Homo sapiens: one gene and its partners. The protein of the gene in region 1 purifies or fractionates together with the protein of each later gene. This does not show direct contact. Each region holds a gene or a part of one and is shown in the gene's direction. Other genes may lie near its edges. The genes, in order: USP46, CNN2 and ALDH9A1.

What was found.
Region 2: the proteins of USP46 (region 1) and CNN2 purify together in Homo sapiens (co-immunoprecipitation; one large-scale study listed by IntAct). This does not show direct contact.
Region 3: the proteins of USP46 (region 1) and ALDH9A1 purify together in Homo sapiens (affinity purification with mass spectrometry; one large-scale study listed by BioGRID and IntAct). This does not show direct contact.

What each region holds. Positions count from the first base shown.
Region 1 is NC_000004.12:52,603,712-52,607,363, reverse strand, and holds part of USP46 (ubiquitin carboxyl-terminal hydrolase 46), read left to right. Parts: intron 1-2,779; coding exon 2,780-2,863; intron 2,864-3,652. UniProt on the Homo sapiens protein: Deubiquitinating enzyme that plays a role in behavior, possibly by regulating GABA action. May act by mediating the deubiquitination of GAD1/GAD67.
Region 2 is NC_000019.10:1,036,578-1,039,687, forward strand, and holds the end of CNN2 (calponin-2), read left to right. Parts: intron 1-1,047; coding exon 1,048-1,323; 3' UTR 1,324-2,488; downstream 2,489-3,110. UniProt on the Homo sapiens protein: Thin filament-associated protein that is implicated in the regulation and modulation of smooth muscle contraction. It is capable of binding to actin, calmodulin and tropomyosin. The interaction of calponin with actin inhibits the actomyosin Mg-ATPase activity.
Region 3 is NC_000001.11:165,696,366-165,700,117, reverse strand, and holds the start of ALDH9A1 (4-trimethylaminobutyraldehyde dehydrogenase isoform 1 precursor), read left to right. Parts: upstream 1-1,555; 5' UTR 1,556-1,559; coding exon 1,560-1,740; exon of another isoform or gene 1,741-1,868; intron 1,869-3,752. UniProt on the Homo sapiens protein: Converts gamma-trimethylaminobutyraldehyde into gamma-butyrobetaine with high efficiency (in vitro). Can catalyze the irreversible oxidation of a broad range of aldehydes to the corresponding acids in an NAD-dependent reaction, but with low efficiency.

The sequences.
Region 1 (3,652 bases):
TTGTTCCAACAGGTATAGAACATTAACTGACAGCTGCTCTGCCTCAGCATTTACTGCTGGGGTCCTCGCCTTCTCCTAACTTACCTTCATTTTCTAATTCTCAACTCATGGATGCCCTAAGAGCATTACTCTGTCAGCAAGCTTCTTTGTAAAATGGGTCTTTACATTAGGTATTAACTTCTGCTATATTTCCACCTGTCTGGGTCTACAAATCAAATAAGTTTTTGGGGAAAATAAGAATGAGTAGGAATGAATGATTCCTTATTTGTTGCTGGCCTTTCTTTGGCTATTGTGACCCTTTAGCTTGGTAGTACAGCTTCTCTGCAGTAGACATTGGGAGGATATGAAGCTCCATCACACCCACACTCATCTCCCTGCCTCTGGCTCCCCGTTCCACTCCAGTCAATCCCATGCAGCCAAAACAAGATTCCACAGCACTTACTCAATTGAAGTATTCATTCAGCTAAGTATGAGTTTGTTTTATGCACCATGTACTTGAAATCTGAAAGTTTAGTACATTTGCATTCTAATGGCTTTCTTGCCTTTCATCCCTCTCCAATGCCCCCTCCACCATGCTGTCAAAAGTGGAATTTCTAAAAAGCACTACCTGATTATGTCGTTTCTTTGTTGAGACTGTTGGTTAGGGTTCATGCTGGCTTCTTGGTAGCATAGTCCAGGCTATGTGACTTGCTGCCTGATATGGTTTGGCTGTGTCTGCACCCAAATCTCATTGGATTGTAATAATTCCCACGTGTTAAAGGTGGGGCCAGGCGGAGATAATTGAATCATGGGAGCAGTTTTTCCCATACTATTCTCGTGGTAGTGAATGAGTCTCACAAGATCTGATGGTTTTATAAATGGGAGTTCCCCTGCACCTGCTGTCTCTTGTCTGCTGCCATGTAAGACATGACTTTGCTCCTCCTTTGCCTTCTGCCATGATTGTGAGGCCTCCCCAGCTATGTGAAACTGTGAGTTCATTAAACCTCTTTTTCTTTATAAATTACCCAGTCTCAGGTATGTCTTTATTAGCAGCATGAGAACAGACTAATACGTCACCGCTGCTGTTCCCTACCTCCAGGCCTCTGCACTGCAGTGTTCTCTCTCAGGAGTCATTGACCCTTATTCACTTGTTCACCTGGCACACTTTCCCTCTTTCTCTGTGCTTTCTCCTGGACTTTACACCTGCTTCTGTCTTGGTTGGTTCATTCATTCAACCAACAAATATTAATGTGTTCCATTGTGTGTCATGCTGGGGATATAGGAATGACAAGTGCACTGCCCACATAGAGGGGAGGCAAGTAATCAAATGAACAGAGGAATGGTTTCAGATGCTGGGAAGAAATAAGACGGCAATGTGATAGGGGCTGGATAGGCTTGGACAAAGTGGCCAGAGAAGTTTTCTCCAAAGAGGGGATGTTTAGGCTGAGTGCTGAACAACCGGGTTAGCCAGCCATGGAAGCCTCTGGGAGGAAGCTCTCAGTGCTGAGAAAATAGCACCTGCAATCACCCTAAGGTGAGAAGAGGATTTCCCAGGGCCAGTGTGGCTGGAGCAGAGAGAAGGAGGCAGGGTGGATAAGTGCACTGGAAACTGCTGGAGGATTTCAGCAGGGGAATCATGTAATGCTTTCTGTTGAAGCTGCACTGATCATTTCATGTTGTCAGTGGTTCATTTGCACACATCTCTGTTAAAGTGTGAGCCGTATGAAGGCAGTTATTCTCTGTGGATCCCCAGAACCTAGCCCAGAGGACTGGCAGGAAACATTTGGGGACTTAATGAATGAAAGAATCTGTGTTTTCTTTTGATGTGTTCTGTGTAAGTGGTAGAATCATTTAACACATTTTAAATAACATTTTCTGTTTAATAAAATCTGGTCATTATGGTACTAGGACACTGAACAAGGAAATGCCCCAGAATTTTTCAAAACTATAGGGTATTAGTCCAGATGTTCTTTTCAGCCTTTGAAGCAGTACCACAGAAATGTTAAGTAGAATCTTGATGGCTGGAAAAGAATGAAAAACCATGACATTTAAAAAATAAAAACCGTAAGTAGCAGAGTAGAACCTCATGATAAGGCAGATACACATATGACAAACACAATGGCTTTTGTTCTCCAAAGGAGGCAGGCAAAAGTTCATCTCCTCCGGCGGGGGAGCAGTGGGGAGCAGGGGTTGGTAGGAGGTGGTCATCTGATTAATTCAGGATTTCTTTAGTTCACTAAGAGGGCAGTTTTGTATGTGGTTTAAATTTCATTATCTTTACTTTCATGCTCTTTGAAAATATGGACTACCAGAGAAATACTATTTTTCATTAACTACACAATAATGTCACCTTGCATGTTATGTGATTTACTTTCTGGATCTAAGTTTTAGTGTTTACGGTGAACTTTTACTCAACAGTATTTTTCTATTACGATTTTAATTTCTAGCTTATAGGTATTCTCCATTAAATCATGAGTTTTTTTTCTGAATCCAGTTGGAAACCCTAATTTATATCTGCCTGTGTCCCATTAAATAAAACTATATTTGAATCTCTCATGGTAAATTCATGATTCGATGAAAAGAGCATGTCTACCACCGTAATGGCACCCAGTCTTAGCTTATTTTTGTTTTTCATCCTGTAGTTTCTCTACCATCCTAGTCTTAAGTAGGATTTTTTTCTGATTACTTCTTCTTCCATTTTTACTTAAAAATTACCCTACAGGTTAATTGAGGGATTTAAAACATAGTATACCAAGTAGATTTGGACATTTTTTAAAGATGGAAATATTTTCCTCTACAGAGACTTCAGCAACACAGAAACACTGTGTAGTGAACAAAAATATTATTGTGAAACATGCTGCAGCAAACAAGAAGCCCAGAAAAGGTAGGTAAAGATTTAGCTCAGGGTTATCTTTGTGTGGTGAGAAGGATCCCGACTGTGGGGCCCAGCAGGGTTGGCTTTGAATCAATCTCAGCTACCTGGGCTTGTAGCCATGGAGCCTTGGGGAAGTCAGTTATCCTCCTCACCAGTGAAACTGGGATAAGAACGCTGACCTTGGAGAGAACAACTTGGAGAGTTGTCTGTCCGATTGTTTACTTATTTGTTTATTCATTCAGTCATTCAGCAAATATTTGTTGAGCCCTGCCATGTGCCAGATATTATGCTAGATAAACAAGTAATGATTAAATATAATCACTATTCTCTTGAGATTAAAGGTAAATTATATAAAGTACTTAGCAGAGTATATAACACATAGTAGACACCCAATATTATTTTTGTTTGTATTGCTTAAACATTAGGACCTCTTATTTAGAGACAGAGGTTTAAAAAATATATATCATTTCATAAGGACTCATGAGGAAATTATTAACACATCAGTTATAAGAATAGGTGATTAGAGGCTGGGCACAGTGGCTCACACCTATAATCCCAGCATTTTGGGAGGCCAAGACAGGCCGATCATTTGAGGTCAGGAGTTTGAGACCAGCCTGGCCAACATGGTGAAACCCCGTCTCTACTAAAAACACAAAAATTAGCTGGGCATGGTGCCAGGTGCCTATGATCCCACCTACTCGGGAGGCTGAGGCAGGAGAATCACTTAAGCCCAGGAGGCAGAGGTTACAGTGAGCTGAGATCGTACTACTGCACTCCAGCCTGGGTGACAGAGTGAGA
Region 2 (3,110 bases), on another chromosome or scaffold:
GTGCCCCCGACTCCTCTCCCTGCCCCTCTACACCCTGTGGTCTCGGCCCCTCCCTGGGGCCACCTCCAGCTTCTCTCCCCACTCTCAGTCTCAGCCCCTTCCCTAGACCACCTCCGGCTTCCCTCCCCGCTCTCTGTCTCCGCCTTGGATTTCAGCCTCTGTCATTTCCACCTGGCTGTGGGTCTCTAGGGAAGTTACTACCTCACCCTGTGTCATTTTCCCTTAAGGACTGCCCAAAGGTCCACCCAATTCTTTTTTTTTAATCTTTATTTATTTTATTTATGTATTTATTTTGAGATAGGATCTCACTCTGTTGTCCAGGCTGGAGTGCAGTGGCACGATCTCGGCTCACTGCAACCTCTGCCTCCCGGGTTCAAGAGATTCTCCTTCCTGCCTCAGCCTCCCGAGTAGCTGGGACTACAGGTGCATGCTGCCACACCCGGCCAATTTTTGTATTTTTAGTAGACATGGGGTTTCACCATGTTGCCCAGGCTGGTCTCGAACTCCTGAGCTCAGGCAATCCACCCGCCTTGACCTCCCAAACTGCTAGGGTTACAGGTGTGAGCCACCGCACCCGGCCACACCCAGCTAATTTTTGTATTTTTAGTAGAGACGGGGTTTCACTGTGTTGGTCAGGCTAGTCTTGAACTCCTGACCTCAGGTGATCCTCCCACCTCAGCCTCCCGAGTAGCTGAGACTACAGGCGCCCGCCACCACGCCCGGCTAATTTTTGTATTTTTAGTAGATATGGGGTTTCACCGTGTTGGCCAGGCTGGTCTTGAACTTCTGACCTCAGGTGATCCTCCCACCTCAGCCTCCCGAGTAGCTGGGATTACAGGCATGTGCCACCACGCCCAGCTAATTTTGTATTTTTGGGAGAGACAGGGTTTCACCGTGTTGGCCAGGCTGGACTGGAACTCCTGACCTCAGGTGATCCTCCCACCTTGGCCTCCCAAAGTGCTGGGATTACAGGCGTGAGCCAGTGCACCCAGTGAAGGTCCCCTCTTCTCTCCACCATGACCTGCTCCACCCCTCCTTCCTCTCCAGGTGGGCATGACGGCTCCCGGGACCCGGCGGCACATCTATGATACCAAGCTGGGAACCGACAAGTGTGACAACTCCTCCATGTCCCTGCAGATGGGCTACACGCAGGGCGCCAACCAGAGCGGCCAGGTCTTCGGCCTGGGCCGGCAGATATATGACCCCAAGTACTGCCCGCAAGGCACAGTGGCCGATGGGGCTCCCTCGGGCACCGGCGACTGCCCGGACCCGGGGGAGGTCCCTGAATATCCCCCTTACTACCAGGAGGAGGCCGGCTACTGAGGCTCCCAGCACGCTCTCTCCCCACATCGTCTGCCCATCTGGGTTTTTGGGTTTTTCTGTGTTTTCATCTTTTTTTTTTTTTTCTTAACCCGTTCAGTGCTGCCAGTCAACCAAGGGTCTGTGAGTGTCAGCGTGGGATCAGGCAGCAGAGCTTTTTTCCCCTTTGCCTTGATCCTTCGCAAGGCTGAGCCACTGGGCTGTGGGGGAAGGGGTCAAGGCCATATCCCAATACGTGTAGGGCGAGGGTCCCTGCTGGCACATTCAGGCTGTGCTGGGAAGAAGAGACCTGGGCTTGGAAGGAACCGGTCCCCGACGGTTTCTGCTTGCCTCGCCTCTTCCCCCTTTTGTCAGCTGAGCAGTTTGTGGTTTCTATGCCCGCAAGTTTCAGGAAGTATTCACAAAAGAAAAATACATTTTTTCCCCCAGGGGTGGGGCAAGGACAGTGGAGAGAGTGCTAGGAAATGAGTCCCCTGGGAAAGGGGACCGGGCCGTGATGTTAAATATCTCCGGCTCCCAAGTGACTGGATTTGCCTAGGACCTTCAGACCAACAGACTTCAGACCCTCAGACCTGCCCCGGGGCCAGGTGGAGAAAGTGAGGGCCGTACAAGGAAGTGAAATTCTGAGTTGTTGGGGCTAAGCCTGACCCCCTCTCCATGCTCCCCGCCCCAACCCACTCTGGCCTCAGTAGATTTTTTTTTCAGTTGTGGTTGTTGCCCAGGCTGGAGTGCAGTGGCGCCATCTTGGCTCACTGCACCTCCACCTTCCGGGCTCAAGCGATTCTCCAGCCTCAGCCTCCTGAGTAGCTAGGACTGCAGGTGCTCCACCACGCCCGGCTAATTTTTGTATTTTTAGTAGAGATGGGGTTTCCCCATGTTGGCCAGGCTGGTCTCGAACTCCTGGCCTCAGGTGTGATCCGCCCGCCTCCGCCTCCCCAAGCGCTGAGATTACAGGTGTGAGCCACCGTGCCCAGCCCCTCAGTAGGTTTTAAGGAGCCCCCAGCCCTCCTCCCTTCTGGGCCCGACCAGCTTATACTGCTCCATCTTCCCCGGCCACATGCCCCGCCAAGTACTGCACAGGGACCCCCCACCCAGGGGACCTGCTCCGTGAGATAATGTGAAATACGACTGTGGACCAAACGCAATAAAACCTCTGTTTGTACGAAGAGAAGGTGGCCAAGAGAGTTGGCGTCGATGAGGGCGTGCTTTGCTTTGATGCTTTTGTGGGGAGAGAGGAGGTCTTGGGGGATGGGGGGATCAAGGGGAAAATGTCCACCTCACCATTGGGAGGAGGAGCAAAAGCTGAAGCCACAGGTGAGTCTGGGTGGAATGAATGATTTGAAGGGCCGGGACTTGGGGTAGAGGGAGAGGCTGGGCTTCCTGGCCATTTGGAGAAGAGGCAGTTCCCTCAAATGCCCCCCATGCGCTTTGGCTGCACTCTACCTTACAGCGCAAGTCTCGTGGCCTCAGCCTGGATGTCTCCCCGTTGGCGAACTCCTATTTATCCTCAAAGCCCCAACGGCAATGCCACCTCCTGCCGCGGGAGCCGTCCCCACGCCTCTCACTCTCCCCAGCGCCTTCAAAGCTGTGGACCCACACGCTCCCATTTCAGCTTCACCTCCAGCCTGAAGAGTTTATTTCAACTCTTCTTCCAGAGTGGGAAACGGGTTTTCCTCAAAATCAGGGTAGCCACTATAATCGGAGACTCTAGAATGTTGGCCCCCTCCCCCTCCTGCCATCCTCTGCAGAAGCCGAGGAGCGTTCGTGGAATGAATGAATGAACGAATGAT
Region 3 (3,752 bases), on another chromosome or scaffold:
GGTATTCTGAGTTTGGGCACTGCTGTTTCCATCTGAGGACCAAGACCTACACATCTCAGTAGCACTGAAAAAGTGAACAAACTGGTATAGAGTGCCAGAAAACTTGATCAGAATACATTATATATACTCTAAACCTGAAAACCACACTCCCTAATATTGCGCTGGTGAGCTGGCAGGTAAAGGAAAAAACATTGAGAAAGACAGCAGCCCCCAGAAGAGAAACAATCCTAAAAGAAATGTCCAAATTGCCAATTACTTTCTGTTTGTCAAAGTCTCTACTGGAGGTGCATGGAAGTTTGGTGAGAAGAATGAACCTTTGTGCAAGATCCCTCAGCTGACAGACCTGTGAGTGCCTCTGGGTGGCTGCTTTGTCTTACAGAAGGCATTTTGTTTCCTGACACTTTTTCCTGTGGCCTTTGCTCTTCGTATTCTGTATGTTAGGCTTCTGTTTCTATCAATATTTGTCATTAATAGCATTTACATTGCTCCTTCAGAATTTATTTATTTTGAGACAGGGTCTCGCTCTGTTGCCCAGGCCTGAGTGCAGTGGCACGATTATAGCTCACTGCAAGCTTGGACCCCCGGGGCTCAGGGGATCCTCCCACCTTAGCCGCCCAAGTACCTGGGGCCACAGGCGTGTGCCACCACACCTGGATAATTTTTTTTTTTTCTGAGTTTCACTCTTGTCACCCAGACTGGAGTGCAATGGCATAGTCTCGGCTCACTGCAACCCGTCTCCCGGGTTCAAGCGATTTTCCCACCTCAGCCTCCCAAGTAGCTGGGATTACAGGCGCCCGCCACCACACCCAGCTAATTTTTGTATTTTTAGTAGAGACGGGGTTTTACCATTTTGGTCAGGCTGGTCTCGAACTCCTGACCTCAGGTGATCTGCCCGCCTTGGCCTCCCAAAGTGCTAGGATTACAGGCGTGAGCCACCGCGCCCGGCCCAATTTTTATTATTTTTATTTTATTTTTTTATAGACACGGGATCTCTCTCTGTTGCCCGCAAACTCCTGGGCTCAAGCGATCCTCCAGCCTTGGTGAGAGCCACAGCGCCCAGTCTCTCTTTAAGAATTTAAAAAGCAGTTTCAGATCACAATATCATCTATCTCGTTCACAGTCCCCTTGCTTTTTACTGTCACCCTTTAAAAAGCATTATACAATTACAGAAACGGTGGTTTAGCAGTGAAGTAACCACCAAAGACTCTTGGCACTCCAATCCTCTGCCTTCTTCAGGCGATAGGATTAAGAATGGGATCCTAGGATGCTTACATGCAATGATGAACCCGAAAACACTTGCAAAGTGCTACGCAAATATTGATCACGAAGAAGGAAGTCCTCTTCCCGCCTGGAGACTGTGTGGGGTATGGCGGGGTGGTGGGGAGAATGTGGTGTCTTGCTCCACCCTCCTGGCGAGGGGAGGGCCTGGCCTGGACCGCAGAGGAATCGAGTGACTGCCCCTAAAATCTCCTAGAACCGATCCCGCGGCCCCGCCCCTCCCGCGGCCCCGCCCCTCCCGCGGCCCGTCAGCCTCTGCCGCGGAGCTGCGTCCGCCACTCATGTTTCTCCGAGCAGGCCTGGCCGCGCTCTCCCCGCTTCTTCGCAGTCTTCGGCCCTCTCCTGTCGCCGCCATGAGCACTGGCACCTTCGTCGTGTCGCAGCCGCTCAATTACCGCGGCGGGGCCCGCGTGGAGCCGGCGGACGCCTCCGGTACCGAGAAAGCTTTCGAGCCAGCAACCGGTAACTGCAACGAGCCGGGGAGGCTGGGGCGCCCTGGGGCCGGATGCGCGGATTTCCCGGCCAGCCCCCGTTTCCTGTGTTCTGCAGCGTTGACTTGAGCACAAGACAGTGACAGTGGAGAGTCTAAGGTTGTGTGTGTAGGCAACTAGCGATTCTGGGGCAACGCGAGTGCCTCCGGGCAGGGATGGGTAGGGAGGAAAAGCAAAGCTGATGAGTTGCGTGGTAGGATCGTGAGTTGTTTTACCCGGGCCAGAACAGAGTTCGCAAAGTACTGGTGGGGGAAGTCGTGCCTCTGTTAACTTCCTTTTTTGTTTGTTTTGTTTGTTTGTTTGTTTTTTGTTTGTTTTGAGACAGGGTCTCACTCTGTCGCCCAGGCTGGAGTGCAGGGGCACCATCTCAGAGCTCACTGCGCCCTCTACCTTACGGGCTCAAGTGCTTCTCCCGCCTCAGCCTCCCTGGTAGCTGGGATTACAGGCTCCCACCACCATGTCCGGCTAATTTTTGTATTTTTAGTAGAGACGGGTTTTCAGCATGTTACTCAGGCTGGTCTCGAACTCCTGAGCTTAGGTGATCCTCCCGCCTCAGCCTCCCAAAGTGCTGGGATTACAGCCGTGAGCCACCAAGCCCAGCCAACTGTTCCCCCTTTTAAAACCAGGACTGATGTATTATTGTCTTCAAATGTGTGCATAGGAGAGGAATTCTAAAAGAACGGGGCGGGGTTGTGGGGAAGATAATCATTTGTGCTGGGAATGAAGGAACGCTCACAGATAGTTTCTAATGACTACGAATGAGGACTTTGTCTCCACATTCTAATATTAAAATATTTCTGCACATTAATCAGAATTGGGAAAGGAAAAAACCCCACCTTTATTCAGTACTTTCTTCCCCAGCTTTATTGAAGTATAATTAACAAATAAAAATTGTATATACTTAAGGTGTAAAACGTGTTGTAATGTATGTATACCTTGCAAAATGGTTACCACGGTCAATCTAATTATCCATTGCTTCTGCATAGTTAATGGCTTTTTTTGGATAGTGAAATATTTAAGATCTATTCTTTTAGCAAATTTCAAGTATATGATGCAGTATTGGTAACCATAGTCACCATGGTCTACGTGAGCTCTCCACAATTTATTCATCTTGCTGAAATAAAACTTTTTAATCCAGTGCTTAATGTGTGCTAAGCACTGTGCTAGGCACTGGATTTACTCTGGGAACTCTGAAGGTCACAGAGATAAGGAAGAAGGGGCTTTTTGTTTTGGTTTTGTGTTGTGTTTATTTTGCTGGGTTTTATGGAATATATGTGGGGAGAAAAATGTAAATATTTTGTGTAAAATGTAGCCAGAGCAATAAAACTGATTTGCAGGGGACTGGAGAATTTAGTATTTGACCATCCACACTAAACCACAGAGCAGTGACTTGGCAGAGCCAGAAGGCATTATCACATCTCTTCTTTATATAGGAGGAAACAGCTTCTCTACCCCGACTTAATCCTGATACAAAAGAAAGAAAAATTGCTCTTTGCTTTAATTGCCTACAGTGTGTGTGATCCTCAGCCACCGCCTTTACCAGCTGGCTATTCAAGTTTGTAACAGAAATTGCAGATTTGTGAAATCTCCCTGGAAAGAGTCCCAGGAGTTCTTGTGAAGAGGATTTGCTGAGTTGGCAAACTTAAAGAATTCTTGTTGGTAGAGGCAGTACAGTCCTTGGGCTATGGGCCTAGAAAAACTGATTGTTTCATAATTTGCACCAGAATAGGGAGAGGGAATAAAGGTGGAATAAGAAAAGGAAATCTGGGAATTTTTGAGAAAAAAAAAATGTTCCTTTAGGGTTGCCTTATCCTGATATTACTGCTTATTAACTATATTTATCAAGTATCAAGTAGTATGATATAACCTACATAGAATATAGACAAGGGATTTACAGTCAGAGTTTATAACCCAATAGACTGATTACTTTTGACTTTCATTTTACAAGACCCCTGAGATTCTGAGATAATGTTTAGGAGTGTT